7 separate regions of the Homo sapiens genome follow, and regions 1, 2, 3, 4, 5 and 7 are each reported to be linked to region 6. The links are microRNA targets in miRTarBase. Many come from high-throughput screens and were not tested one by one. Region 6 holds a microRNA gene; each other region holds the end of a gene's coding sequence. Distances are between the middles of the regions.
Evidence for each region. The annotated mature microRNA hsa-miR-3666 reads CAGUGCAAGUGUAGAUGCCGA and lies in region 6 at 2,240-2,260, opposite strand. An mRNA with a match to its seed (bases 2 to 7 or 8) in the 3' UTR can be bound and repressed. Matches are read on the target gene's strand: a 7mer-m8 pairs with bases 2 to 8, a 7mer-A1 pairs with bases 2 to 7 and ends in A, and an 8mer does both.

Region 1 (4,518 bases), not on the chromosome of region 6:
GAATCTTAAACACTTCTAACCTTTTGGAATAGGTTTGAATATGGACCAATATACTTTGCCAATGGACCTAATAGATTACCAATATACTTCTAAATGTCATGGTTCTCTTCAGACACAACAGAAGAAATCTGGATCTAATTTTTAAACTTCAGAAATTTAACCAAGATGCTTAGGAAGATGCAAAAGGACAGCAGTACTTAAGCCTGTCATATTTATCACCAATATAACTGTATTGCTATTAAAAGTAAAATCATGGTAGGGAGCAGCCAACTAATTGCTAGTCTCAGTTCATAGATTTAGTATTTTTTGAAAATAATTCACCTCAGATGGCAGGCTATACAAGTTTAAAGTAGTTTTAACTTAACCTTTTGTGTACTAGTGAAAGCAATTCAGATAGATCCCAAGTCAAAGAACCAAACAGTGTATCAAGTTGGGTTTCATATCAGAAATCAGCCATTTCCAAACAACTGCATCGTATAGGACGTTTTCTTTCAGACTGCCTTTTATTCCTGGCTTCAAATCTTACTCACAGTATATGTTTTTAGAGAGTTTGGTAAGTGTAACAAATGGGTACTCATTGCTAGAGCAGGATATAAGAATGTGCTGATCACCAAGTATGAGATTTACATTACATTAAATTAAAATTATATAATGTTGGAAATAGACAATATAGGGAGTTCCCGGATCCTAGAAAATATTATGGCTAAGGAAACAGAGAACTCAAGAAATGAATCTACCTCCAAGAAACTAATTCAGTATAGTAAAATAGAATTAAGTGCCCTGTCTCAGGAAAAAGTTTATTAAGAATAAGGAACAAGTGGGACATCATACATCGTTTCTTTGGAGATTAAAGTGCAGGCTATGAAATGGCATATAAAATAATGCATAAAATAGTGCAATCTTAAGGTGCCATTATTTTTATTACACATAGCCTAGTTTTATGTCCATTTTCTCTCAAAAATCCAGCTGTAGTGACACCTTTTAGCTTATTAATTTAGGCATTACTTATACTGTTTTACCCACCTTTGGGGCTACATAGAATATTTTAACATTTTTAACACGTAGAATAATTGCGCATATATCTTGAAACTACTAAATAGAGATTAAGGCAAGCCCCTGTAAAGTTCAGTACTCCAAAAAAAGTGTTTTGCAAAAAAATTGCTTCCCAAATCAGTGGCTTTTGACCTGATGGTACCCCAATAGTCTTTAAAACTATTTTAAAGTATAATGACTCTCAATACATTTGCGTTTGCTCCATTATTTCCAGGCTCTGTACAGGAGTTTGAAAAACAACAGGTTCTATAACCTCAGAATCTGTGAAAACCAGTTAAGCCAAGTGCATGTGGGAGATAAGCAGAGGATCCGGCTGGGGTGGGGTAAGGTCAGCCGTTTCTGTCTCTTAGGCATGCCTTTTCACATTGCTATCCATGTGTGCAGCGCTGTACCAGAATACATTTCTATGTGGGAAGGACCCATTAACATGGAGACGTCTCCTCTGAAAAACAGCCAAGGAAGATAACGGGAATACTTTAAGAAATGTTGCACTAAGACAACGCAATATTAACAACACGCAGTATTTAAATACCTGACTTAAAATGCAGGGCAGAATGGTTCTCTCAGGAGGTTAATTTACAGTTTTCTTGTAACATATGTCAGTTCTAGCTGATCATAATAATCTGCGGTTTGTTGAACCTTAAATACCATTATGCTATCCATAGGTAAGCATAATGGCTATCAAATAACTGTCCTAACAAGTGGTGAAGGCAATATCCTAACATGTTTTAGCTAAATAGCCTAAGATTTAAGATTTGAACAACCGAACTGTAGTGCTTTATTCTCCTACTGCATGGAACATTCATGCATTAACAAGTACAATGAATTAGCTTTATGAATAGATGATTATAAGTGTATGCAATAGAAATTTGGATTTTGTAATAGAAAATTTACCTTGTAACAGTGTGACTACTTATTATGAAAGCCCTATACACATGTTAACTAATGGAAGACTACATAGATGTTTAGGCTATCTAGATGTAGTTTAAAAAGAAATTCAGGAAATTTTTAATAGTTCATGAATGACCATTAAAGAAACAGTCTGGGGCTGTATCCCTTTGATGCATACGGATCACACTCTGTAAATCTGTAAACACATGCTTTGATACGTAAAAAAAAAAGTCTTCCTATGACCGGAAAAGCAGACTAGTAGAGGCCCCGGGTATTCCACCAGGCCTCCTCTAAAGATATGCTAATATGGCTAAATACTATGATTATAAAAATGAGAAGTGCTGAGAAAACGAGTTCCAGACGGGGACTTTTATGGATGACCTTGGCTGACAAATGTTTTTTGGAAATTGTTTTATTTTAAAATTACCTTCCCAACAAACCATGAAACACTTGGATGTTACTTTATGGTTTTTCATTGAAAACATACTACATTGTAAATGGAATTTCAAAGTCAGACATAGAATTGATCAAAATCTAAGGACAATATTATGTAAGGACAATATTAAAAATGGATAGAAAAAGCTTCATTTGGTGAGGTTAATCTAAAGGATGCATAACCATGTCACGGTGGACGGATAAAAAAGGTGATAACCTTGTGCTTTTATTCAACTAAGGTACTTACCAAAACCTTAGGTTTTATACAGGTGTTAAGCTCCCACCTGGAAAGGGACAGTTTTCTATATTACACCTAAATTTACTTTAAATAACTGAAGCCCAAGGAAACAGTTGTTTAAAAGAACTTAACAGTCAAATAGCTACATAATTTAGTAAATTAAAATACAACTAAGACAGTGATAATTGAATGTCTCAAAACTATACAACTGGGGAAAATAACCACTGTACACAATTTGGAGGTTGTTAAAGCGACCACTCAGGAGGTTGAACAGTGCAAGACATGCTTTTCCAGTTACAAGCTCAAAATAGGAGTGCAAACAAAATTAAAGCTTTTGTTTAAAGTTGTAGGGTAAGGAAAGCTTGAAACTAATATTAAAAAGCTTCCCTCAAGGTCATCCTCCAGAAATGAAATAATCAAAATGCTTTTTCATGGTACAATTTTCCTCAATGAACTTTGCTGCAATGGCAAAACTGCATCCCGCAAGTCGAGTCCCCTACTCACTCACCACATCTGATCAATGATCACATGGTGGTGAGCAAAGAGGAGTATTAGCTCCCAGAGGTCCAATATTGATAGAAAGAGCCTTGAAATTTGGGGTTCTGCCTTAGCCAGTGTACCTGAACCCTACAGAGAGCAGATAAAGCAATGGGCTTTAATAGTCTCTTGTTCCTATAAAACTGGAGGACAAATGGATGAACAATTCCCCCTCTAGAGGCAAGCTGTTGCGGTGGAAGATGTTAAGCGTTTAAATAAACTAAGACGCCGCTCTAAAAAGTGGAGAAGTATAGAGGTTCAAGATCAATACCAGTGCAAGAGCTTTTTAAGTGAGTTGACTAGGCAATGCATGCATCCATCCATGCAAATGTAGGACATGGCCCCCAAAGAGAACTGAAAACATGTATAACAGCTGGGTAAGTTCCTTGCCAGTAGTTTATAAAAATATATAGTCAATATTGTAGAGGCTCCTTCTACAGTCAATACTATGGAAGTCCATTTTAGTTACCCATTACTTCAATACCAAAAAGCATTAACTACTTTTCAGACATTCCAGACAAAGGTCACTTATAACAAAAAGATGACTTAAAAAAAAAAGAACCAAGATAGTGTCCATTTAAAAAGTAGGTCTTTTCTTTCAAGTGAACAGGACATTTTCTGTATTAAACTTAACTTCTAGTCTGTCAAGACTGGGTTTAAGATCCTTACGTATGTATGTGCATATATGCAGAAACAAATTAACTTACTTTCAACATTATCTGCACAGAAAAAAGTTAACTCCTCAAAACATGATAGAACAGGTCTGGTTAGTACAAATCTATTGCAAAGTAAAAAGATTCTGTGCATCAGTTCAATCAGGAGAAGCAGGAAAAGAATGTCCCAACCATAAGAGTTCAAGTTTAAGTTGTGTTCTGAAAGCCTAGAAGCTTAAGGGACACCATGTTGCTCACAGTATCCTGATATGCATAACTGCTTAAGCTACTAAGCTGTGTCTTCCTCTGGAACTAGAACCACATTCCAATTTACTTTCTATTCCGAAGACGTTTAGATTTCCTAAGAGAGTCTATGGCTTCCGTGGCCTTTTTTCGTTTCCGAGGAGACTCCTCATTCTGCCCGGACCCTGAGGAATTTCCTACAGCACTTTCCATTACTTCTCGTAGTTTGCGTTCTAGCTCTGCCAACCGTGCATTTTGTTCACCTATGATCTGGGTCTGCTCTAGCAGTTTCTGGTCCTGGTCTTGAAGCTGTTTTTGCTGTTCTTGCACTTTGGTGCGAAGCTCAGAAATTTCACGCCTGAGAACAGTCACGCCAGCACCATTTGTTTTAACCTGCTGCTGGAGTTTGGTAACCTCTTGTCTTGAAGGATTTTGCTTGGAGAAGAGCTGCATTGTTGTTAGGGCTGC
Region 2 (4,698 bases), not on the chromosome of region 6:
TTTTGTCATATTGGTTATTTTTATGATGAAATATTTCAAACATACCACCAAAGAATAATATAACAAATATCAGTATACTCATCACCCAGTCACCCGTACTTAATATGAAAGTGGGAGCTTATTAAATACAACGGGTGTACGTTAAATGGCAACATTTGTTAAAATAAAGCTAAAAATTGGGAATTTATTATTGGAGTTGTATTAGGGACTATCATATGCTTTTCTTTAAGTCTAACTTTTACTGGGATAGAGTCACCAGATTAGACAACACATTCAACGCAAGATCCCTCCTGTAACAATTGAGATAGGTTAGGCTGCAGATTTTCTTTTTCTCCATTTGTTGGCCTTACTCACTTCTGTTCTTCCCAGTTACACAGAACCCTCAGCCTGACCACTGTCTTTATAACTGGTACTGCTTGCAGTGAGCTTTTGCAAACAGTGCTGAGATTGACAAGTGAAGTAATTGGTACTCGGGCTGAAAGATAAGTACATCAGGTTGACAAGTGGTGGTAAAGTCTGAGGGTATGACCAGTTGGGAAAAGGGGCATATGTGTGTGTTTGTGTGTGTATGTGAGAGAGAGAGAGAGAGAGGGAAATATGGAACATAGCTGAGTTGAAGAAATAGAAATTTTTATTTCTAGTCCCTTTCTGAAAGAATTGAATGTTTATATACTAGAAGCAAGTTATTTTGTCCTAAAAAGTCTGATCTTATTGACTGATGTTGTTTTGTTCTTTTTCAGTAGGTGACCATGGTTATGATAATTCTTTGCCTAGTATGCATCCATTTCTAGCTGCCCACGGACCTGCATTTCACAAAGGCTACAAGCATAGCACAATTAACATTGTGGATATTTATCCAATGATGTGCCACATCCTGGGATTAAAACCACATCCCAATAATGGGACCTTTGGTCATACTAAGTGCTTGTTAGTTGACCAGTGGTGCATTAATCTCCCAGAAGCCATCGCGATTGTTATCGGTTCACTCTTGGTGTTAACCATGCTAACATGCCTCATAATAATCATGCAGAATAGACTTTCTGTACCTCGTCCATTTTCTCGACTTCAGCTACAAGAAGATGATGATGATCCTTTAATTGGGTGACATGTGCTAGGGCTTATACAAAGTGTCTTTGATTAATCACAAAACTAAGAATACATCCAAAGAATAGTGTTGTAACTATGAAAAAGAATACTTTGAAAGACAAAGAACTTAGACTAAGCATGTTAAAATTATTACTTTGTTTTCCTTGTGTTTTGTTTCGGTGCATTTGCTAATAAGATAACGCTGACCATAGTAAAATTGTTAGTAAATCATTAGGTAACATCTTGTGGTAGGAAATCATTAGGTAACATCAATCCTAACTAGAAATACTAAAAATGGCTTTTGAGAAAAATACTTCCTCTGCTTGTATTTTGCGATGAAGATGTGATACATCTTTAAATGAAAATATACCAAAATTTAGTAGGCATGTTTTTCTAATAAATTTATATATTTGTAAAGAAAACAACAGAAATCTTTATGCAATTTGTGAATTTTGTATATTAGGGAGGAAAAGCTTCCTATATTTTTATATTTACCTTTAATTAGTTTGTATCTCAAGTACCCTCTTGAGGTAGGAAATGCTCTGTGATGGTAAATAAAATTGGAGCAGACAGAAAAGATATAGCAAATGAAGAAATATTTTAAGGAAACCTATTTGAAAAAAAAAGCAAAGACCATTTGATAAAAGCCTGAGTTGTCACCATTATGTCTTAAGCTGTTAGTCTTAAAGATTATTGTTAAAAAATTCAGAAGAAAAGAGAGACAAGTGCTCTTCTCTCTATCTATGCTTAATGCCTTTATGTAAGTTACTTAGTTGTTTGCGTGTGCCTGTGCAAGTGTGTTTGTGTGTGGTTGTGTGGACATTATGTGATTTACTATATAAGGAGGTCAGAGATGGACTGTGGCCAGGCTTCCACATTCCTGAAGCACACAGATCTCAGGAAAGGTTATTTTTGCACTTCATATTTGTTTACTTTCTCCTAACTCACAAGTTAAAATCATAACTTAATTTCATTAACTTTTATCATTTAACTCTCTCATGTTTGTTGTAACCTGAGGTATCCAAATGCTACAGAAAAATTTATGACCCAAATACAAATCTCAATTTGACTGGGACAGAATGAGGAATGGAGATTTTTGTATTTATCTTTGGGACTTTATGCCTTACTTTTTAGGCTATAGAATAGTTAAGAAATTTTAAACAAAATTTAGTATCTTTTGGTCTTTCACACCATTCATATGTTAAGTGGCAGAATAGCCTTAGTGCTACCTCCACTTTTTTCTCCAGTATTTGCATCACAGAAATAATCCCTCTGTTTAACATGTTTGTTCAGAGCCAAGGGTTTATTGTGAAGAACTGTCATCCTGCCTTTGCTAGCTGGTACCTTCTAGTAATCAAAATTAATATGAAGAAACTAGGTTGTGACAGACTAGATTATATTTAGTAGGGGAAAAATTGGGCTCAAGAACCATTCATCAGTACGTGAGACAAGCAGTTAATAGTATGATCTTTAAAGTTTTGACAATATAAAATAAACTTGGTAACTGTTTTACAAATATAAAAGTATAATAAATATGCAGCCCAGTTAAATATTGATTATCTGTGATGGTAAAGAACAACAGTGGTGCCAGTCATCAAACATACAGTGCGTCCTATTGAGTCACTGCTAATTTCTTGAGCCTGGTATTTGCTGCCTATTGTATTTGTGGTTGTTGAGAGGCATTTTCAAACCCTGTATAAATAATCCATGCTGTTGGTCATAAGTTAACTGTATTAAGAACAGTAAAATAAATAAAAACCAATAGTACTAATTTTGCTTTAAAAAAATTTCTAATTTTTTTCACATAAAACAATTATCCTAAAGGTTAATAGTTGATCGAAACAGAATAATAGAAAAATTCTACTTTAATTTCCATTAAAAAGCAAATAGCATTGACACATTTAAAGCTTTTCATTTAAAGTAGTGGATGTTTTTGAAGTATCTAAAATAGTAGCAGAATATTTTATACTTGGTCCTTGCAATGGTGTGAGTTTTAATGATTGCATTATCGTGATTGGTGGTTATGAGTTTCAGAAATCTATACTTGGCATCCAACTCATGAGTGGATTTTATATAGGATGGAACAGGAAGGTATGTCCTGTCAGTATCTTAACCCTTTCAACAAGACATTTACCTATTTGTCTTTCCTTACGTTCTCAAAATATTAACTCGAATTGTAAATTAAGCAAAAATTTAAAAAGTATATGTTGATGGGACAAGAAGAATAGTATTTATTTAATAAAACATATATTATATTGAACTATGTGTTAATTCATTTGTATCTTTTAAAAAATTATCACTGTTAAAGCCATTGACTCCTTTAGTACACTGAGAAAAATCTTATAGTAAAACTAGCCTTTCACATTAAGGTTTTGGTGTGTATTTTGTTAAATAACTAACATGCTGCTCTATTTTCTGGGTGTAGAAAGTATTTGGCTCTAGGAAACATTTACTTGTTTGTGAAAACAATACCCCAAGGTAATAGGAAAAGTTTGAGTTAAGTGTTTTTAATTCAGTCAGTGAATTCAGAATAAGTACATTCATGTATAACATAGGGACAGTTCTGCTGCTGTTATTTATATGCAATTCTTCTGGTAAATAGCAATAGAATAAAACATATTTCAATGTTTGTGTATAGGTTTTATATTATTATTCCACTAGGAATGGCATAAGAATTTATAGATAAATTCTTGTAACATTAAAGGATTAAAATGTTTTTACATTGTTTTTGGGTGTCTCCTTCTTGTGCCCATATCTGATAAGCTTTATGGATTATTGCATTTAATTCCTTTTATTTGGAGGGTTTTACTTCCTTGTTAACATATAAAGTTATAAATGAAGGACAAGGAGGAGATGGAAAATGTGTATTTATTGTTAATTCTTAAAATAGTGTGTAAATAAAATAACATCAGTGTGCTTTAAAGAAATGTGTATGTAGTGCCTTAATTTAAATTAAAATATTTTTGACTGTTACTTGAGTTCAGAATTAATGACTTTGTTCATGATTTTTAAAATGTGTGTGAATAAAATCTACCAAAAAATTCTTACTGTAATTATTAAATATAAAGTTCAGTGTCACTGGTGATTTTTACATTTGTTACCTTCTTGCAAAATATACTTACTGTGCTAGATGTTGACATGACTTAGTAATATTATAGAAGCCCACATAGGTGTTTATTAGGATTTTTTAACTCTTTAACAAAAAGTTTAAAACAGTGTGTAAGTATACAATCCAGCATAAGAACATCATTGGAAAGAAAGCCAAGATAAGTTTTATAGAACCTCCAGAGCTATGATTTATTGGCTTATGGTAGAAGAGAAGAGGTTTGAAAAAAACCGATTATAAAATAGTGGGGATGGTAGGGGAAGCATTATAATGTTTAAACTTTGTACATAGCCATAGGCATTTAATGACTTGTCCAATTGAATATAGATTCAAGAATTCTCCTATTAGAGCAGTGATTAATTCATTTCCTATTTTTGTATTAAAAGAACTCTGCTAAGAATTGTAGGAAAACAAAAGAATAAATGGAACATTTTTTACTCTGAAAGAGAATTATTTCAAAAGTGGTAAAACTTTATTTATACCAACAAATTACCTATGTGTACTCA
Region 3 (4,698 bases), 110 Mb from region 6:
GTGTGGGAAATCCTTCTGCCAGAAGGGAACCCTTACTGTGCATCAGAGAACACACACAGGGGAGAAGCCCTATGAATGTAATGAATGTGGGAAGAACTTTTACCAGAAGTTACACCTCATTCAGCATCAGAGAACTCACTCAGGAGAGAAGCCCTATGAATGTAGTTATTGTGGAAAATCCTTTTGCCAGAAGACACACCTCACACAACATCAGAGAACACATTCAGGAGAGAGACCTTATGTTTGTCATGACTGTGGGAAAACCTTCTCGCAGAAGTCAGCACTTAATGACCATCAGAAAATTCACACAGGTGTGAAACTCTACAAGTGTAGTGAATGTGGGAAATGCTTCTGCCGCAAGTCTACTCTCACGACCCACCTGAGGACCCACACAGGAGAGAAACCGTATGAATGTAATGAGTGTGGAAAATTCTTCTCTCGGTTGTCATATCTCACTGTACATTATAGAACTCATTCAGGAGAGAAACCCTATGAATGTAATGAATGTGGAAAAACCTTCTACCTGAATTCAGCCCTCATGAGACATCAGAGAGTGCACACAGGAGAGAAACCTTACGAATGTAATGAATGTGGAAAGTTATTCTCCCAGTTGTCATACCTCACTATCCATCATAGAACTCATTCAGGAGTAAAACCCTATGAATGTAGTGAATGTGGGAAAACCTTCTACCAGAACTCAGCCCTTTGTAGACATCGGAGAATACACAAAGGAGAGAAGCCCTATGAATGCTATATATGTGGAAAATTCTTCTCTCAGATGTCATACCTCACTATACATCATAGAATTCATTCAGGAGAGAAGCCCTATGAATGTAGTGAATGTGGGAAAACCTTCTGCCAGAATTCAGCCCTTAATCGACATCAGAGAACACACACAGGAGAGAAAGCCTACGAATGTTATGAATGTGGGAAGTGCTTCTCTCAGATGTCCTATCTCACTATACATCATCGAATTCATTCAGGAGAGAAACCCTTTGAATGTAATGAGTGTGGAAAAGCCTTCTCTCGGATGTCATACCTCACTGTACATTATAGAACTCATTCAGGAGAGAAACCCTATGAGTGTACTGAATGTGGAAAAAAATTCTACCACAAATCAGCATTCAACAGCCATCAGAGAATTCATAGGAGAGGCAATATGAATGTAATAGATGTGGGAAGGCTTCTCTGAAGTCAGACCTCATTTTATATCAGAGAACCCTTTCAGTATAGTGAATCAGAAACTCCTGCCTGAAGTCAAACACCTTGTACATCAGAGAGTTCACACAGGTTAGTGTGGACATCCCCTTGTGTGTTGGACTCATAATCTGAAGACTCACAGAATGGAAACCATGATTATAACAAGACCACATGGTATAACAATACTAGACTATAGACAAGTAAAAATTTATAAATATTAAGAATGTATATACATGTCACCATGGATTGGAACTGTTTTGCATATCAGGGAAATCATAGCCAAGGGGAAATCTATCAGTATAAGGAATGTGGAAGACATAATCCTTTGGAAACTGTTAATACTAAAAGATATGTTTCTGATACAATAGCAAACTTGAAAAAAAAAAAAGAAATAGAAGATTCCTGCTGTGAATAAACATACTTCTTGTGTAAATAGAAACTGTAAAGTCATCAGGATAGCTAGTTAAGTCGGTAACCTTAAACTCATGTAAGCAGTTCCCAAAGAACATAGGACTTATGTTTGGGGAGAGGGTTGTTTTTATTACAGTACATTACAGGAATTGTATGTTCACTTCGAATCATGTTTGAAAAAACGTTGTATCCTTATTTTGTAATTCATATAGTAAGAGTATTCTAAACAGCACTACATTAATATCATTTGATAGGTATAAAGTATACTTTTTCTTGCACTCTTCTCTAGGATTTAATGCATTGATCATTCTTAATGAACAATATCAGCTCTAAAGGACCAATGCTTTTATAATGTTTTCAACTGTATCTGAGTCAGCCAGAGAGATAAATATCCATGTATAAAATAGATAGAAAACTTTGCTTGGTAATTTAAAATTAATAATGCCAGTTTTCCAAGAGTGAGAAAATCATTGCACTCTATACAGTTTTAAGATATACTTAAAATATTCCCATTTGTATCTATTTTTTTTTCTACTGTTTTTTATTTGGACACTTACATAACAGTGCAGAGCACAATGCTGTGTAACATAGGAATTCACTGTGTTTTCATTTGATGTCGTACTGGTTTTAAACCTTGTGCTCTACTCCTTCCTGTTAATGAATTAAGAACACATTCTAACAAGGGTCTGTGGCAGACATTGCCGAGTGACTTTCTAACATAGGAATTCACTGTGTTTTCATTTGATGTCGTACTGGTTTTAAACCTTGTGCTCTACTCCTTCCTGTTAATGAATTAAGAACACATTCTAACAAGGGTCTGTGGCAGACATTGCCGAGTGACTTTCTTAGTCACTCCCTTACTCTGCTGGCGGAGTTTGGTTATCCATTTATCCTCAAAAGGAAGTGAGATAAATCCTGATTAGTTTTAACCAGTGACACTCCCCTTCTCGTTGCCAGCAGTTGATTTACAGTGGTCACAGGGCCCAATTCTAGACATAAAACAAAGGATATACCTGACAGACTACTTCTGGAAAAGGTTTTCTCAAAGGCCCAAGGATTCAAGCAAAGGGAAGTGGAATCTTGTGGTGAACAGTACCTTGTCTGGATGTGGTGCCTGGTAACCATCTTTCAGCAATGGATTATAGTTTAATCATGGCCTGAGCAGAAATACTGAAAGACCCTGAGACCTGGATGATGTCTTTGAGCCACCAAACCAAGCAGCCTTGTAGCCACTCCTCCTTTGGACTGTTTCTTTTGTGAGAGACTAAACTTATTTTTAAGCCAGTTGATTTAGGATGCTCTATTACTAATAACTGAAGACATTCTAATTGGTACAGACTGAAACCTTTATAGGAGTTATGCAGTTCAGAAGTGGACTTTAGGTAAGTCATTTATTTTAAGCTGTTGATATAGAGATTTATTTTCTGTAAATTTTGACGTAAATAGTTTGAGCATTAGAAATCAACTTGAAACAATAAAATGTATGCTTCCTTGAACTGTCATATCGTTGACCTGCAAAATTCACCTTTGGAACGTGACACAATGTTAGGCATACCTCCTTTTTTCTAATACATGGAATACATTTTGTTGGAGGTAATTTATGTGATTCATATACCACTGCTACAGTGTTAGCTGACAACATATAGTATGAGGTAAGGATCTAATTCTGTTTCCTCTCACATGATTACTTGATAGCTAAGCATCTGATTGGTTTACTGCTTTACCACTGAGCTGAAATGCCGTGTTTTCCATTTATTAAAATCACACATGGCTCCTGTTTTTGTCACTCAGCACTTTTTCTCCATATTCTTCAAGACGATTGTGAGTATGGTACGTAACAGGAATTACATCTGGTAAGTTGTATAGTTTTGTGTAGGAACTCTATATTCATAGCATATTTGTGGAAATGATACCTATGGAGGTTTCTCACACTGGTGTGTCATTATACATTAATTGTACAATATGCATTTTCAGTAAAATATTTGAAAACTGTAAATGGCTTGGCATTTTCTTCTTATCCTATGGATTGCCTGCACATCAAAGGGTCTGGTACGTATATAAGTGGTCCTGAACTGCCTCTTCAGTAATGTAGTCAGTGTTCATAGTAACATGTTTATAGTTTAAAAGATGCCAATGTTTTCATAAATTAAGAGATTTTTTTGGCCCATCTTAAAATGAAGCCCACCAGGAAATACATTCTTAAAATTATATTGCTTTTTTCTTCCTATCACAGAGATAACTACATCAAAAATAAATTGATTTTCCCTTCATTGAATATAAAGTCTATGATTCCTGCCAAATTGATGCACTAGCATGGGCTGCTGGCTTGTTACAGTGCAAGCCCGGAGGTGCCACGGAAATAAGAGCAGTGTTTGGGTCCAGAGAACTAAGGATGTGAATGGGGCTCTTTTGCGGGAAAGGTAATGGCAGACAGAACAAATCTTAAAGAGTAGTTGAATTGTAATCTTTTTCCCTATACATTTATGGTCCTCTGTAGTATGCCCAGGAGATGATAGCCCACCATGGTGCCTTCATAAGATAGGAGAGCAGCTCGGTCCTATGGGAGCACTTAGGTTCCATTAGAGCATCCTCTCCTCACTTCAAAAGCCAGTCATTGCTACGACTGGAGACATTCATTTTTTTGTTTGTTCGTTTTGTTTTTTGTTTGTTTTTGAGACGGACAGAGCCTTGCTCTGTCACCAGACTGGAGTGCAGTGGCACGATCTCGGCTCACTGCAAACTCTGCCTTCCGGGTTCAAGCGATTCTCCTGCCTCAGCCTCCCAAGTAGCTGGGACTACAGGTGCCAGCCACCACTCCCAGCTAATTTTTTGTATTTTTAGTAGAGATGGGGTTTCACCATGTTGGCCCGGATGGCCTCGATCTCCTGACCTTGTGATCTGCCTGCCTCGGCCTCCCAAAGTGCTGGGATCACAGGCATGAGCGACCACACCCAGTCGACTGGAGACATCTTAAGGAGGCAGTATTTAGGGTGATCATGTCAAGTGGTATCCTGAGGGTCAGTCAAGCGGGGCGGGGGGGGGTCTCATTCCAGGCATTGGTGATAGGGGATTTTTTTCTGTAACACA
Region 4 (4,656 bases), not on the chromosome of region 6:
AAACACCAGCCTAGTGGGTGAGCTCACTCACTAAATTTCAGACATGACGAGCAGTGCTTTTGCTCTCTGAAGAACAAGCACTGGGTAATGCCAACACCTAGCCTCAGCTACACGGGGGAAGGGCAGAAACAAGATGTTGAATTTGCATGGCCCTGGCCAACACAGACAACATCCCCTTCTAGTGGTTCCCAGGCAAGAGAAAAAGGCATTTCCAGGACAACTGTGCCAGGAATTAAACACAAGTTAAAACTGGCAGGAGCTGGAATGGTTTCCCAGACCTCAGAGCTACCTCCCCACCTCCATCTTTTTGGTCTCACTGGTAATATGGCCAGTCTGGGTCCAGCTGGCAGAGCACACGGGAGGAGGCTGCTCTCTCACCAGGCAAACTGAGGACTGAGTACAGGAAGGGTGTGGAGAATTATCCTCTTGGGCAAGTTGAAGAACAAGGCTACTGCTTGGCATATTTCCCAAAGCCATTTCCCACTCTAGAGGCCCTGTTCTGTCCTGTAGAAAGAGTGGAGAACAACCAACATCACAGTCCAAATATTGCTCACCTCAGGGCCAGCCTGTGACAGGGTACCCACAGGATGGTTCATATTGAAAACTGGGGGGACCATGCTCGGGGGAGGTGGTGGTAGTGAAAGGTCACAAACATTCTTGCCCACTGTGCAACAGGCAGGGGCAAGAGGTGGGATGGGTCAGTAGTCACATGATAAATCCCCCGGGGCCTCTGAAATCACATTCTGGTAACTTCCACTTTGTGAAAAGGAGTTAGTTTTTACTCCTCTCCTTTCCCGTGTCTTCTCCATTTTCAGGTGGGACAGATCTGCATGATATTTGGGCATCTCAAAACTGACGAGCCCAAAACTGACCATGAGTCACACCCCCAGATGTGTTCTCTAACTACTCCCTAGCTCTGTGACTTTGTTTCCCCAGTTGACTGAGCCAGAAACCTGGGACTCATCCTAGATGAGTCTTCTCTTCTCCCTTCTCTGTCCCACGTCCAATCAATGATCGAATTCCACCACTGTCCTGCCTCCAAACAGCCAGAATCCACCGCTCACCACCGCCCCCAACAGTGCCCTGCTGCCCACTGCTAAGCTCTCTCAACTGCTATGCCAGCCTAACTGAAGCCCAGTCACACCAATTCATCCTGGCTTCAGCACGGCCGGCTTGCATCACCACCTTCTTCTCAGTTCACCTTCCAAATCAAACCTCCAAAGAGCTGCTTCCACCTACAAGTCAGCTCTCACCTCCACAGGATGTTCCGTAAGACACTAGAGGGCCTGGGCTTTCCTGCTTCTCCAACTTCTTTCCCCAGCCTTGTATTTTAAGCTCCCTGCACACACAATTTTGTTTCACACTCTTGTGTACCATCTTTCAACAAAGCCTATCCAGCCTCCAAGCTTGGGCATCTCCTCCAGGAAGTCACCCCTGACCTCTCCGGAACTCCCCTTTGGACTCCCATTCTATTACTACAACCACTGCAGTGTGAAAATTATCTTCTCCTATGTATGTCTCCTATACTAGGACTCCGAACTCCTTGAAGACAAGGACAGTATCGCCACTGTATCCCCAGTGCATTGCACAAAGTAGAGCTCTATATTTCTAGGATATACTGGACTGAAAGCATCTGTGGTTTTTTGAATATCAAGCCCTTTAGAATCTGGCAACAGCTATAACGAAAACACACGTAAACCATGATGAACTATAGACAGCACCAACAAAGAAAACATGATACTGCTGCTCTGGAACTGAAATATCCCCCAAATAATGAAAAATAATATGTTGGGGGCTGATACAGAGTTTATTGAATTAGATTTTTCTATTTACAACTGAGATCACATCTACATACTATTTTGCTAGTCTACATGGGTACATTATTTCCAACAAGCTTAAGACTTACCATGAATGGGCTCATTCATACAAAAACACACTCACACTAATTCTTTTAAAACAGTAGTGCATACATTATACTCCTCCTATAAAGCCAACTTTGATTAAAAACCACTAGTTTCAAAGCTCAGTCTCTGATTTTGAAGATGAACCAAGATATACGCCATATGATCCTACAATCTATTTTAGTCATTTTGTACAGCTGCTATCTTATTGGACTACAGTAAATATTTTTTAAAAGGACACCAATGAGGGGCACCATCTGGTGTTAACCTTAACCAGAAAGCTGGTTTCCTCCTCCTCCCCGCAAAAACCTTTGGCCAAGAGTTCTCCACTGTGAAGACTGAAAGGACCTGGTGACATTTCGGCATCAGTCCTGTTACCACTTGGAGGTAACAGAAGCAGGCTCGTGTCCTCCTTTAATTCTACCACACTACATGACTCGCAATTGGTTCTGAAATTAGAACGTTCACCATCGTACTTAAAATCTTAGGGGCATGAAGAGTCAGCTAGAACAAGGAAAAAGAAAGTCGCAGGTAGTAGGTAAGTAGGTGGGCACATGAAAAGCCAAGCTGCTCTGTCCAACACCAGTGTACATGTGCTTTAACTAAATGAACTCCAGAGGCCAACAGCAGCAGACCTGCTCAATTCACCTTCCAAATCAGAACAAGACCAAAAAGCTCAGGCTTGAGTTGTCAACTATGCATAGGTTCCGCCAGTGATGAGGAGCTCGTAAGCAGGATCTCTACTCCTTCTGCACAACACGATGCAAGCACACAGCATGCCCAGCAGCTGTTGAAAGAAAACAACAATGGGGAAAAAAGGCTGAAAACCCTCTCATGGCAGGTGTGTATTTCTTTGTTGGTAAAAGAGCTGTTTCAAAGTTCAATGACTTCAAATCATCAAAAAGGCAGTAACAACAGTGATAGAAGGAATTTCTTATGAGTACATTATTTTTTAAGGAACTAAGTCCTAAGCTTCAGCTTCCCTCCCAGGAACTCTTCGTAAAGCCAGCAGGGAATCAAGTCTCTCTTATTTGGCATCCCCACTACTAGTCTAGCGAGTGCTGTCCGAAAGAACTTTCTGCAGCGATGGAGACATACCACATATGCACTGTCATGTGGCCTCATGTGACTACTGAGCACCTGAAATATAGTTACTGCAACTGAGTTGCACTTTTAATTTTATTTAAATTAATTTAAATGTAGACACATGTGGCTAGTGGCTACCATTCTGGACAGCAAAGGCCTGGGGAGTAGAATGAGCAAGAATGTGTGTGTTTAATAGTGGTCTTTTCAGGTCTTTTGGTTTTTGGAAAACGAAATTCAGTATGTGAATAGCCCTATGGTAGAAAACAAATTCTGATGCCAAAAAAAATGTAGTTGGAAGGTTTTTTGTTTCCTTCACATTCACTATTTTTGAAATCCACGGTTCTGTGGTATTACATACATATTACTTTTGAAAGGTCACTCTTCCGTCATCATTTTATTTCAATAAGTCCTAAACCTTCTGTGGTAGCATATTGGAATAGTAATAAAGTCATGCCATGTTATTTTGGATAAGCAAAAGGATTAAGCTGGATTAAAGAGAAAATGATTCTAGAATTTTTGACCTACCTTCTCCCAAAATATAATTTTTTTGTGAGATAATTTGCTGTTCTAACTTCTCATTGATGAGGAAAAGCCTCAGTTATTTGATTTTAAAAGACAGGGTCCTCTGTACATTTGGGGGTCAATCTAATTTCCGCAAAATGTACCCAATCCATAAACAGACTCTCAAAGTTTGAAGTGGAAGATTAACCACTACTAAGACACACATACACATAAGGATGTCCTCAATCTGAATTCTCCATGGTATAAAGTCACCCACTCCAATTTCTACCCTCACATTAACCTATATTCTGCCCATTCGGGATATATATTTCCTGCTCAAATCCATCAGTTTCACTATTTCACCACTTGCACCATTTGCACCATTTCACCATTTGCAAAGCACCTTAAACACACTTAAGAGGTGAATATTATTTAAAGTTTACTAAACAATTTAAGTCAATTCTAGACCGATGAAGTACCTAATTCCTAGAGAAATACATTTCTGTTCTCTGTACATCAAAACATTGTTAGAACAGCTATAAACTCAAATGCAATTATGTTCTCAGGCAATGTTAAATTGAGCAATAAAAATGCTAAGCTCAGAAATGACTGGTTTGCTAAGGGAAAAAAAATCTCTCTTCCCACCCCCACCTCCCCACACTCCTTTCAATTGGTTAACTTCTATTAGAGAAGCCAGCATTCTCAAAATGAGGTCTGAAATAAGTATTTCTTTCCCAATTTGTTTATTTCAATGAAATCAACTTGTATTGATTTTAAAACAAATAAACTTGATAAAATTCTACTCATGCTTGGGAATCAGTCTGCTTAAGAATATTAAGCTCTACATAATAATTTCTTATCCTCACCATTAACTATTACAGGCTCATTTCCAAAGGCCTGCTATACTGAAATTCCATTGATTTTTGAAACATTCCAACAACATACTTGGAAACATTACACAAATATTTTATCTCCAACATTATTTCTTGCAATGAAATACTCTCTTGCAATATTCAAGGCATGAGAATTAAACTTCACTTAGCCCAAATATAACACCCAGCAACTGCAAAAATTGAAAAAAATGACTAGTGGTGATTAAAAAAACTGACTGGCAAAGTAAAATGTTCTATGATATACCATGTTGCTGGTGGTATGGGGAAATAGGCAT
Region 5 (3,386 bases), not on the chromosome of region 6:
ATCCTCTATGCCACAGAGGTGAGCACTCCCAGGCCCATTGGGCCCTCCCCAGTCTGGCCTGGCCCTAAGACCAGAAGCGCGATAGGGCCAGAAGGGACCGTGGAGAACATTTACTGATGAGAGAGAGGTGAAGTCACTAGCCCAGGGTCACCCATTAGCAGGGCTCCTGGACTCCTGACCCCTTGCTCTTCAGCTACTTACAGAACCTGAGAAGCCCTGCCTGGCCTGCCTGGCCCACCACTTTCCTCTCTCTCCCACCCTCCAGGAAGGATTCGCACCCCCTGAGGACGATGAGATTGAAGAGCATCAACAAGAAGACCAGGACGAGTACTGAGGGCGGCCGCAGCCCTGGCTGACTGCACAGCTTCCCCGTGCCTCCCTCCCTGCTCCACTCCCACATTATAGTCCTTTCCTAACACGGTCGGCCGGGTGCTTTGTGTCAGTGCTGCAGCACTGGGGAGCCAGGCGAGGGGGGCTTGGGGGCATGGGGCCGGAAAGCAGGCAGAAGCCCGTCCTGGGTGGTGCTGGCCCAGTTGGTGGGACCCCTGTCCACACCCACCCTATTTATTTCCGTTGTCTCTCTGCTGTGTCGCCCAACACTTCCCAGGGTGCTGCTGCCACCCGCCCCAGCCAGCCACCTGCTCCTGACAGCCAGCAGCTGTGTATTTGACAAAGTCATTGGTATATTTTTACTTACTGGATTCTCCTTGCACTTTACCTGTTCTTTTCCAGAGCTGACAGCACGGGCTCCGGCGCAGTGTGCCTGGCTTGGCTTCCCTTCCCCATGGCTGGGGGCTGGGGTAGGACTCACCCATTCTAATTTATTTTGTCTTTTGGCTTCTCAGTAGCTAAGGGGAAGGCTGATGTCAGGAGAGGGAGAGGGGGCTGAGGAGGTAGTGCTGTAGGCCCAGGGGGTCAGGGAAAGGGAGGGGGGCATGTGAGGGATGGAAATGACCTCCTGGCACCAGGCTCACCCACCCAAGGCCCCCTGCCCCAGCACTGAATCCCAGCGCTGCCCTGAGGCCCCCAGCCACTCCCTCCAGCAGCCTGGTTCACCACACAAACTCTGCCTGGACCCCATTGTCTGTCTGCTTCCCACCTGCCCTCCCCACCCCCTGCCCCTCGGGCACCAGCCTGCATATGTGTTCACTTTTATTTAAATAAACTTGTGTGGTAAAAGTACATGCCATGTGTCCCTCAACTGAGCCACAGTCCAGGTCCAGTGCTTTCCACCTCCCATGCACCGCTCTCTCCGGAGGTGATAGCGGCAGCACAGCCTCACTGTCACCCTCCCACAGGCCTGGAAACCACCACCAGCTCTGGGCTCAGAGCCCAGCTCCAGCCTAGCCCCAATGCCCAACACTGGTGGTAGGGCTCTGAGGGCAGGTAGGGGCCCCAACCCCCCGTCACTGAGGAGGAACTAGGTCTGGGCCCGTGGCCATGACAAGGGACAGCCGGTGAAGCGGCTGTGGGGCACCGTGGTGGCCTGGCCAAGAGGTGCTTCGTTTCAGTCTCCTTTGGGTCAGGGGGACTGCATGTCATCCCCCACCTGTTGTCAAAGCTCATACAACTCATCATAGTGATTCAGCTGGGGACAAGGGCTCACGTGACAGAGAGAGCTGGGATGGCCACAAAGAGCAAGGAGTTCTGAGTGCTGAAGCCCGGGACAGCAACATCCAAGGGGTTCCTTCTGTAGAGCAGGCTCCAGTGGGAACAGGGAATCAGGAACCCTTCCACATCACCTGCACAGCCCCAGTCCTGGCATGTGCCTAACAAAAGGCCATACTAACCGATGTCCCAGAAGCCCAGCAGAGACCAAGAGTGCAGAAATGAATGTGAGAGCCTTGGGGTCATCTAGACCAGCCCCCGGTTTACTGATGAGGGGTCAGAGGCCCACGTGCATGACTCAATCACCGTGGCTGAAACCTGGACTAGAACTCACACTTCTTGACTTGAGGTTCAGGGCTCATCCCCAAAGACCACTGAGGTTCCCCCAGCTGCAGGACAGCGCTGGTTTCCTCACCACCCTGAGTATGGTCAACATGCAGATGGGGCCGTGTCTCTTCTGTGGCCCCACCCCATGGCCCCTTTTGAGACCACCACCATTTCTCTCATGACACCAGGTTCAAGCCTTAAATAAGCAATTCATATCTGTTTATTCCTCAATCACCTCCACCACCCCTTTTGACTCCCCCCCCCCATACATAGACACTTCTGCCTTATTCTATCTCTGTTCTCCTCCAGCAAGTTCCTTGCCTGCTTTTACTTATCGTGATGATTTTAATTCCCTTGCCTAATTTTTAAAGGCTTTTCCCCATGATTACAGGTAGATACCATGAAAGGATAGGCCAGGCCGAGACCTCACCCTGAAGGTAAAGTGGGTGTGGGAGGCAGAACAGTGCCTCCCCCAATGTCCACATCACAATCCCCAGAAGCTGTGAATATGTGGGTTACATGGCAAAAGGGAATTAAGCTGCCTGTGGGCCAGGTGCGGTGGCTCACGCCTGTAATCCCAGCACTTTTGGAGGCCAAAGCGGGAGGATCACTTGAGCCCAGGAGTTCAAGACTTCCCTGAGCAACATAGGGAAACACCATCTCTACAAAAAATAAAATTTGAAGGGCGTTGTGGCACGTGCCTGTAGTCCCAGCTACTCAGGAGGCTGAAGCAGAAGGATCACTTGAGCCCAGTTGTTGTTAAGGCTGCAGTGAGCCATGATTGCTCCACTGTACCCCAGCCTGGGCAACAGACTGAAACCCTGTCTCAAAAAAAAAAAAAAAAGAAAAAAAAGTTGCAGATGGAATTCAGGAAGTTAATCTGCTGACCTTAAAATAGGGAGAGTGTCCTGGTTTATCCAGGTGGGTCCAATGTCATCGCAAACGTTTATAAGAGTGGAAGCAGGAGGCAGAAAGGGTCAGAGTGGGCAGGGTGTGGTGGCTCATGTCTGTAATCCCACCATTTTGGGAGGCCAAGGCAGGAGGATCACTTGAGCGCAGGAGTTGGAGACTAGCCTGGACAACAGCGAGACCCCATCTTTACAAAAAATAGAAAAATTAGCCGAGCATGGTACTACATGCCTGTAGTCCCAGCTACTTGGGAGGCTGAGATGGAAGGATCATTTGAGCCCTGGAGGTCAAGGGTGCAGTGAGCCATAATCATGTCACTGCACTTCAGCCTGGGCAACAGAGCAAGATCCTGTCTCAGAAAAATAAAAGAAGAGGTCAAAGTGAAACAATGTGAGAGTGACTCACCCACTGTTGTTGGCTTTGAAGACAGAAGGGAGCCATGAACTCAGGAATGCAGGTGGCCTCTAGAAGCTGGGCAAGGCAAGGAAATGGATGCTCCCCCAAAGCCTCCAGAAAGGAACCCAGCCCTGCTGACACCTCGA
Region 6 (4,698 bases):
CTTTTGTACAGTGTATAAATTTTAGGGTTTTTTTGAGGGTTGTGAGTATTGACCACTCTTCTTTCAAACCGATCTGAGGCCAATAGTGCAGTTCCTCACTTCAGATATCGCTAGTTCCAAAGGGAACTTTAAACTGTGGTTTCATTTTAAATCGCTCATCTAAGATTCTGTATTAATTGCCCACCATCAAACGCAATTAGCAATTCTTTCATGTGTGGTTTATGTAATGTAATACTTCAATTACATTATTCATTCAGGTTCTGTTTTGGATTATAGGCTGAAAATTCTTTATTAGTGTAGATGTAACCATGCTGCTGGAGTTTTAAAAAATTTACTGATTGAATAATTAATTGGAAAAGAACAAGCTGCAGATTCCTGATGGATTTATGAGACAATTATTCTGTCTTGTGATTATCTACATTATACTATAGAAGCAATGAGGGAAAAAATCTTATTGAAAAGATAGTCATAAATACATGATCAAAAATATCCTCAAAAGTTTATTTTTTAATTAAAAACTCAGACATTTTAGAGTTTAAAAAGTAGTATGTCAGATTCAAAAAGATACATGTCTTTTTTCTTCCTATAAAAATGTTTTTACAGTACTCTACCTTTAAATACAGTACAAAGGAAAAGCAGAAATAGCTTAGCAGAGTTTAAATATAATCTCTACCAAAAAAGTAAATTTTGAATGATATTAATTGATAAGAAATATCGAGACATTACGAGAAAATTAGACAATATAGTCGTCTTCTGTCTCCTCCCCAACTACAAAGCCAAATGTTCGTTTTTTACCTAAAGAAATAGAGGGAGAGGCAAGACTGGCAATCATTAATCATCAGGCTATACAGGGGCCTTATTAAAAAGTATCCCACAAACTTTCATTAAACTAGAGTTACCCAGTTGATTACTCTAAGTTTCTGTGCAAACATCAGCTGAATGAGATAAAGTATATTCTTTTCAACAGTCTGTGTATCTGACTACATTATTAGGTTGAGCTTAAATCTCATATATTTTTGAGGGAAACTAGTCTTAATTTTCTATAATCACCCACTTCTTTTTGTGATAAGCTCTCTAAATTAACATTATGTATAATGTACAATAAAACATATCAATATGTGAAATACATCTTAACTGAAATAACCAAAGAAATAGGACAAAATTGGCTATAAAAATACCATGACCTTTATGACAAAATATTTGATAAAAATCTATTTATATGTATCTTATGATTGATCTGCCTTCTTCAGCACACCACATACATTTCTATTTGTGATTTGTACGTTACTACTTTTCAGGTTGCTCAAAGAGGGTTTCCTTTTAATATCTGTAAACCTATCACAGAAAGAAATTCTCTCTGGCTTCAGCCCCAAGGCAGTGATTTGTGCACTGATAGGTGTACTTTGTTTAGTGTCACCCATGGTGTAGATTGGATAGATTTTGTAAAAGATAGCATTACTTTAAAAGAAACATACAATTTGACAAGCGATTACATTTTACTTTCATTTTATTGCCGTATTTTTCATCACACTCATTGTTTTCTAACTGTCACTAAATTGTTCATTTTCTTAGTCTGTTACATTGGTAGAGCTATTTACTGTTTATAAAGCAATATGCACTTACAGGTTTGGGAGATGGTTTGGGCTCTGAGGGTCGCATGTGCAAGTGGGTCATCATTGCTTGAAGACGTTCGCGTTCTTTAGAAAGCTGTTAAGAAAGAGTGAGATCAGAAGCGTTTTAGAAATGACTGATACAGCTATTTTATTGCAGTGATACATCTTATCATTGAGCTTGCCTCAGAATAATGATTCCTGCATGTAAAAGTCTGCGTCAGGAGGAACTTATCTGGGAGGAAATGCAACTTTAGCTATGGAGGGGGAAAAACTTTTATAGCTTTTCTTATGTTAAAAGGTCAGAGAAAACAAATAACACTTCATCTTTTTGTCAATAAGAGAATTGAGGTCACAGTTGCCTCGACAGTAACAAGTTACTGAAACCATAAATTAGAAGGCCCATGGTGTCTCTTTAAAGTCCTGTGGACACTGTTAGCAATGGACTAGTGCCAACAGCTGTGAAGGGGTGAAGGGTTCTCAAAGCAAAGTGCCTGCCAGGATTGTCTACACACTTCATGCATTCCCACTGAGGTCCAGTTAGTGCCCCCTGCAATCTGCCATCATCAATCTAATTCAATAGAGTGACAGAGACCAGGCAGTGTGAAACGCTGAACTCTGCCACGGAGTCGGCATCTACACTTGCACTGGGTCTCATTACAACTGACGGACCTTACTTTTCCATCAGTCAGACACAGCAGAAGGAAAAAAAAAAAATAGGCGTAATTGGTCACACCGAAGACTGTATCATCAGCTGAACTCTTATGTTTTAGTCTACCTTTTATAAATGGTAAACAGGTTTATAAAAAGCTTTTTAAACTTTAACAGTGATGGTGCTTTTTGTGTTCTTGATTATTTTACAAGTCAAAACAAAATATTTTTAGTAAGCTCTCTGAAAAAAGCAATGACACGAATTTGAAACAAGATGTAATAAAATATGAAGAAAAATCGTATCTTTAAATGAAACAAAGTATTAGTTTCATTGAGAAAAGATCATCTTTAAGATGAAATGTTAGAGAAAGCCTTAAAGGCTTAGTAAAACATAACAAGAGTCAGACTTTGGGTGACATAATTGCTTTCTGATTAGTTCTATGGATTCTATTTACTTCTGGCCAAATTCTGTTTCAACATTAATAGAATTTTTTTTAACTTAAAACAGTCGCATTTGATACAACATGTGTGTATTATCATCTGTGATATAAATTATCTGCCTTTAATCTAGCTAAAGAAAAGTATAAAGATTTTTTTGCAAGTTCTTTAATTAAAATTACACTAGAAAAAGAAAAGAAAAGGTTATCTTTCAGGGTGTTAGTTATATTACAGGCATGATATTGTAAAGACTGGTCATTTGCCACAATATAAAATCTCATGGAAAAAAATCAAGGTTAGCTCATGTAAAAACTCTCTCTGTAATAAAATCATATCTAATTGGGAGTTTGGTCTAACCTGCATTGGGAAAAACTTAGATCTGACTACTTTGGGATATTCAAATTCATATGATGTGGTCTAAAAGTTATAAAAATATAAGTGATAAGTACATTAAACTACAGCAATCCTTCCTGGGTTATCAATAATTGCCACTGTTTAAAACAATCTAAAATATCATGTATCTCCATTAGTATTGAATGGCTAAGACAGTAAAATGCAGGCTGAAAGACCCAGAATCTGCTCAGTACTCAATGTAACACACCAGAAATCTAAGAAGAGTCCATTAAGTGAGCATTTAACAAACCTGTATTTCTAACTGTTGCACCACCTGCATTTGCACTCGACACTGAGCAGTGCTTCGGTCATCCAATGCGTGTTCATTGTTAAGGTGCCTAAACAAACAGAAGACACAAAACAGAATGTAAAGTGATGTCGATCTTAGTGGCATAGGCTACACTTAAAAAGCACTACACTGAAGTCAGATGTTTCTGTGCACTGGGAAAACAGAAAGCCTTGAAACCATACAGATAAAAGTTAAAGCTGCTTACGTGTTGTGTGAAAATTATTTATGTAATGTAAAGAGACTCTTCAAATGGCAGAAAATGTCACTGTCTCTAAGCTTACCTGTTATTACAAAAAATATTTCCCCAGACCATTTACAGAGTTATAGTAGAAGTCATATTATTTATGCCATTTTTTTAAAAAGAACAGCTTACAAATCTATGAACCAAAAGCAATTCTGAAGAGAACAAAGGCAATTTTCTATTTCATTGTTAGAACAGTTTGTTGTTTCTATGATGTATTTTAGTGAGCAATGTTTTATTTCATTGGGATGTGGTATGAATTAGGTAAAGATGGCAAATTATCTCCCGTGGAAAATCAATATTTATGAAGAATGATGATTTGCTGTTAGTAATAAAGAACTTCATTGAAGATTTTGATCATTAGAATAACAAGATTGACATTTCATGTCCAGTGTTCTAACTAGGAGACATTTGTCCTAATCTTATTTTTAAAATGGTGAAAAATAAATCATTCCAAATGATCTCACTCTAACCTTGAATATGCATTAGTCTACCATTATTATTTCTATACGATGTTTAAAGAGATCTCTTTAATGAGTGGTATGTTAATACACCAAAAGTAATTTAGTAAAGCAGCATCTCCAATGAACATGAAAACATTTAATAATATATACTCTGTAATTTGTAATACATAATGTCTTTGATGCTTCCCAAAATTAAAGAAAGTAATCTTCAAGTAATTCAATATCCTTTAGTGTATCTATTTCACCAATGGGCAAAGTAAGGCAACAATTTCAGAGATGTTCTCATCATTGCATATAAGTGAAATGGCATATTGAAAAGAAATTCACAAAATTAAATAAGAATTTATATATTTACCCAAGTGGGCTCAAGTATCATTTAGAATGATATAATAGTCTAAAAAGTTTATAATAGCCCTGGGTATACTGAATTCAACAAATATATTTTTGTATCCATTCAAATTATTTACTTTTATTTCTTGAAGATCACAGTGAGGCAGAAAAAATATAAGACACATACATGTAAAACATATGAAGAGTAATTAAAGTCGTGTTGCTGATAAAAACTAATTTTATTATAAACAAAAGGTTTATTTGTTTATATACCTAGGTTCA
Region 7 (4,698 bases), not on the chromosome of region 6:
ACTATTCAGTTTTCATTGGTTGGAAGCGCTACCTTCCACAAAACACTAGAACATGATTCAGCCAAGTTCCTTGCTACAATAACCTGTTTCTCATTTCTGAGACTAAAACATTATGGCCTTAAATGTCCATATTTCTACCAACATTTTGTTCATGATTGTTTCTTTAACATGAATACCGTTCATGACAGGATTCTTTAAAATGGAAGCTTTCTCTCCAGTGGTTCTATTTTTTTTTTTTGTCCTCCCCAGAATCATTTTTACATCCATATTTCTAGCATCTACCCTCAGCATTCTTCTAGCCTATTTGCCCACCACCCAGTTCCAAAGCTTGGACTTGCACATTTTTAGTTTTTTGTTATAGCAGCACCCCACTTCTCAGTACCAACAACTGTCTTAGTTTGCTTAGGGTGTTGTAAGAAAATGCCATAGACTGTGAGGCTTAAATACAGATATTTATTTTCTCACTGTTCTAATTAAAATAGGGATTAGCAGGTTTAATTCCTGGTAAGGGCTCTCTTGGCTTCTCCTTGTGTCCTCATGTGGACTTTCCTTTGTGTGTGAGCATAGGAAGAGACGTCTCTCCTTCCTCTTCTCATAAGATCACCATTTGTATCAAATTAGAATCACATTCTTATGTCCTCATTGCCCTATGTCCAAATACAATCACATTGCAGGTTAAGGGGTGAATTCTGGCAAGTTGGAGTTGGGGTGGGGGGTGGCGCAGGGGTTATATAACTCCAGAAATCTCAGTCACAGACTCTTTACCTGTCCCTAACATACATATATTAGTTGCCATTAAATTGAATTCCTTCAAGGACATATAAAATTTAATGGTGCAGGACAGCAGAAAACAGGATGAGACTGCAATATCCTATCCTATTGAATATGAGAATAAAGCTCCTATGCAGGCTTAGAGAAAAGTCAGAAAGAATAAAGGGGCAAATGAAAATGGAAAGAATGGTGAAGTTTTATGTTTTTGAGTAAAAATAGTAAAAACCAAACAGTAATACCACCAATAATAATTATATTATGGTTTCGAGTAAGTGTGAAATGCCATAAGTTCATTACGAAGTTAAGTGAAAAATGTTAATATGATAAAAATATAGCTGTAACTACAAACAAGGAAAACATAATAAGGACACATTTTATTCATTAATTTATTATTTGTTAATGACTTCAAAAAGTAAAAGCCAAGACACAAGGATATTTTGTTTCTCTCACTAATTTTAATGTCTGTATACAAGGTTTAGATATTTAGTTTTAATTTGTTTAAGCTGGAAGGAAAAAAACACACACAAAGAAATATAGGACAAGTTCTCCTGGAGAACTATACCCAAAAGAGGAACATTAGCACTGATGGTAACTCAGGATAAAAAGGGAGAATGAGATCCAAGAGTAAATTAGCTGTGTTGTTACATAAATAGAATTTAGTTAGAAATAGAGCTACTACTCTATTTCAAAGATATGAAATAGCAAATATCCTGACAAAAAGGTTAACATACTCTTGTTCTTACTGTGTAGGACATGAAACAACAACCAATTACATATCTTTTAAAACTACTTGAATAAGCAATACTTACATAAAACATAGCTCAATATATCAGATGAGAAAATGGCTTAATACTGGTAATCATTCACACCGTTATAGAGTACATAAATTCTGGGAAAGACATCAGTTTCAAAAATTAAAATGTAATGAATGACAGTGACATAAATTTATCTGAAAATAATAGTAAAATTTTCTTATAAAAATCAAATAACCGGACAGGCGTGGTGGCTCATGCCTGTAATCCCAGCACTTTGGGAGGCCGAGGCAGGGGGATCACAAGGTCAGGAAATCGAGACTGTCTTGGCCAACGTGGTGAAACTCCATATCTACTAAAATACAATTAGCTGGGCATGGTGGCGCATGCCTGTAATCCCAGCTACTTGGCAGGCTGAGGCAGGGGAATCGCTTGAACCTGGGAGGTGGAGGTTGCAGTGATCTGAGATGACACCACTGCACTCCGGCCTGGTGACAGAGCAAGGCTCTATCTCAAAATAAATAAATAAATCCAATAACCAGGCTGGGTGCGGTGGCTCATGCCTGTAATCCCAGCACTTTGGGAGGCTGAGGCGGGTGGATCACCTGAGGTCGGGAGTTTGAGACCAGACTGACCAACACGGAGATATCCCGTCTCTACTAAAAATATAAAATTAGCCGGTCATGGTGGCGCATGCCTGTAATCCCAGCTAATCAGGAGGCTGAGCAGGAGAATAGCCTGAACCTGGGAGGCAGAGGTTGAGGTGAGCCAAGACTGCGCCACTGCACTCCAGCCTAGGCAACAAGAGCAAAACTCTGTCTAAAAAAAAAGAAAAAAAATCCAATAACCAGTGGCTCGTGATCTCATTGACTGCATAACCAAGTCAGCAGTCCTAAGAGAGAGATGATTTTGGAGTTAAATGAGATTAGTTAAACCAAAGAAGGTCTGCTGATTGTTGAAATGCCCAAACCTAGTAAGTCAACTCTGAGAGGGAATAAAAAGAAAAATAATGATAATAGATTAAAAAAACAATTGAAGCCATGTTAATATATAGTTGTAAATTCTCTTAATGTAAGTTCAGTGGTCATTTTTTCTCCCCTTTTAAAGGTGTTTGACAAATTTTAGAGTGATACTTTAAGAGAATGATAAATTTTAAGAGACTTACTGGGTGAGTAGTTTTATCAAATATTTAAAAGAGTTCTCTTCATTTGGATCCTGGTTGGTATAGCCTGCAGGTAAAAAGACTGCTTAAAGGAACTGGTTATATTCCAATATAACACACATACACACTATATATATATAGTGCCCAGTATATAGTGTATATACTATATATACATATATTGTGTGTGTGTGTGTGTATATATATATATATATATAGTGTGTTATGTAGTGCATGTGTGGGCATATATAGTATACATCACACACATATACATCACACACTATATACACACATATAGTATATGTGATATGTATAGTATACATCACACATACACTATATACACTATATGTGTATATACACTATATGTATATAGTGTGTGTGTGTGTGTGTGTGTGTTATGGTGGAATATAACCAGTTCCTATGTATGTGTTTTTTTGGGGGGAATATGTTGTATCAAAATAAAGTAGAAATTTAAAGAGAAGTCAACAATTGGATGAAAATGGAAAGGAGATCACACTTCTATCATTTAAAACAAAACAAAACAACATTACACAAAATGATGAGCTGTAAGACTGTAAAAATACATTGTATCTGACTAGGAGTGCTAACTCTGTGGAGGAAAATAAGTAAGTATAGATATCACAAGCAAAGAATTACAATGCAGAAAAGATATTGAAGTAATATTACAATTAAAAAACTGAATAGTCAAAAGAGCAATAATACAAACATCAAAAGCTATTGTAAACAAAACATGCCAGGATGAGAAACTCATGAAAAAAACTTTTTAACATAAAAAGGAGAAATATTTGGCAACATCTAACAAAGCTATAAGTATATATCAGCTATGACTAAGCAATTCTACGTCTACATACAGAATGACCATGAAGTCTAAAAACAGACTTTAAGAGAGGGAGATACTGAATTGCCTTGATTACCTATTAAATCCATCCACAGTATTTTCCTGTGAAAATCAGAAATAAAAAACCACTTTATACATTTATTTCAGTCAAATGATTTCTCACCAGTGTAAATTTTCGGTTGGCAAGTAAGATGCCCAACAACACTAAAGGAATTCCCACACTCCTTACATTCATAGGGTTTATCATCAGTATGAATGCGCTGATGTTTGGTAAAGGATGAACTATGTCTAAAGGCCTTCCCACATGCCTTGCATTCATAGGGTTTTTCTCCAGTATGAATTCTCTGATGTTCTGTAAGGGCTGAACTATGTCTAAAGGCCTTCCCACATACCTTACATTCATAAGGTTTCTCACCACTATGAATTCTTTGATGTTGAATAAGGGCTGACGTAAGTCTAAAGAACTTTCCACACTCCTTACATTCATAAGGTTTTTGACCACTGTGAATTCTTTCATGTCGAGTAAGTTCACTACCTACTCCAAATGCTTTCTCACATTCTTTACATTTATAGGGTTTTTCACCAGTATGAATCCTCTGATGTCTAGTCAGGGATGAACTATTTCTAAAGACCTTTCCACATGCTTTGCATTCATAGGGTTTCTTACCAGTATGAATTCTCTGATGACGAGCAAGTTCTCTACATACTCCAAAAGCCTTCCCACATTCCTTACATGCATAAGGTTTCTCACCAGTGTGAATTCTCTGATGTTCAATGAGCTGTGAACTAATTCTAAAAACCTTCTCACAGTGCATACATTTGTAGGGTTTCTCACCAGTATGAATTCTCTGATGTTCGGTAAGCTGTGAATGAAATCTGAAGTCCTTGCCACATTCCATACATTTGTAAGTTTTCTCATCAGTATGGATTTTCTGATGTCGAGTAAGTTGTGCATGCACTCTAAAGGATTTCCCACAGAATGAGCATTCAAAGTGTTTCTCACCATCATGAACTCTTTGAAGTGGAGTAACTTTTCCAACTCTTTCAAAGGTCCTTCTGTATTCCTTACATTTATAGAACTTCTCATTATGAATTTTCTGGTATACATTAAAGTCTTTATAAAAACTACATGTATTCCCATATTCCATATATTTACA

Region 1: miRTarBase lists FBXO28 as a target of hsa-miR-3666. Seed matches in the 3' UTR shown: 7mer-m8 at 3,427-3,433, 7mer-m8 at 2,930-2,936, 7mer-m8 at 2,890-2,896 and 8mer at 892-899.
Region 2: miRTarBase lists ENPP4 as a target of hsa-miR-3666. Seed matches in the 3' UTR shown: 7mer-m8 at 1,999-2,005.
Region 3: miRTarBase lists ZNF12 as a target of hsa-miR-3666. Seed matches in the 3' UTR shown: 7mer-m8 at 1,885-1,891 and 7mer-m8 at 2,082-2,088.
Region 4: miRTarBase lists TSPAN3 as a target of hsa-miR-3666. Seed matches in the 3' UTR shown: 7mer-A1 at 1,961-1,967.
Region 5: miRTarBase lists MAPRE3 as a target of hsa-miR-3666. Seed matches in the 3' UTR shown: 7mer-m8 at 708-714.
Region 7: miRTarBase lists ZNF529 as a target of hsa-miR-3666. Seed matches in the 3' UTR shown: 7mer-A1 at 2,911-2,917.

What each region holds. Positions count from the first base shown.
Region 1 is chr1:224,157,366-224,161,883 of GRCh38, reverse strand. It overlaps FBXO28 (F-box protein 28), which reads right to left. Exons shown (of 5, transcript NM_015176.4): 5 at 1-4,518. The coding sequence ends at 4,138. Among named protein-coding and RNA genes, the nearest start is that of DEGS1, 24 kb to the left of the region's middle. RefSeq lists a silencer at 1,243-1,537 and an enhancer at 1,243-1,537.
Region 2 is chr6:46,142,536-46,147,233 of GRCh38, forward strand. It overlaps ENPP4 (ectonucleotide pyrophosphatase/phosphodiesterase 4), which reads left to right. Exons shown (of 4, transcript NM_014936.5): 4 at 741-4,153. The coding sequence ends at 1,105. Among named protein-coding and RNA genes, the nearest start is that of ENPP4, 15 kb to the left of the region's middle.
Region 3 is chr7:6,687,342-6,692,039 of GRCh38, reverse strand. It overlaps ZNF12 (zinc finger protein 12), which reads left to right. Exons shown (of 5, transcript NM_016265.4): 5 at 1-3,607. The coding sequence ends at 1,192. Among named protein-coding and RNA genes, the nearest start is that of ZNF12, 17 kb to the left of the region's middle.
Region 4 is chr15:77,044,240-77,048,895 of GRCh38, forward strand. It overlaps TSPAN3 (tetraspanin 3), which reads right to left. Exons shown (of 7, transcript NM_005724.6): 7 at 1-2,688. The coding sequence ends at 2,596. Among named protein-coding and RNA genes, the nearest start is that of TSPAN3, 25 kb to the right of the region's middle. RefSeq lists an enhancer at 1-98.
Region 5 is chr2:27,026,015-27,029,400 of GRCh38, forward strand. It overlaps MAPRE3 (microtubule associated protein RP/EB family member 3), which reads left to right. Exons shown (of 7, transcript NM_012326.4): 6 at 1-18; 7 at 266-1,205. The coding sequence ends at 334. Among named protein-coding and RNA genes, the nearest start is that of TMEM214, 5.3 kb to the right of the region's middle.
Region 6 is chr7:114,650,935-114,655,632 of GRCh38, reverse strand. MIR3666 (microRNA 3666) reads right to left here and starts at 2,288; the gene lies at 2,178-2,288. FOXP2 (forkhead box P2) reads right to left here. Exons shown (of 17, transcript NM_014491.4): 9 at 3,343-3,430; 10 at 1,624-1,707. RefSeq lists an enhancer at 1-579.
Region 7 is chr19:36,543,182-36,547,879 of GRCh38, forward strand. ZNF529 (zinc finger protein 529) reads right to left here. Exons shown (of 5, transcript NM_020951.5): 5 at 432-4,698. The coding sequence ends at 3,685. Among named protein-coding and RNA genes, the nearest start is that of ZNF260, 17 kb to the left of the region's middle.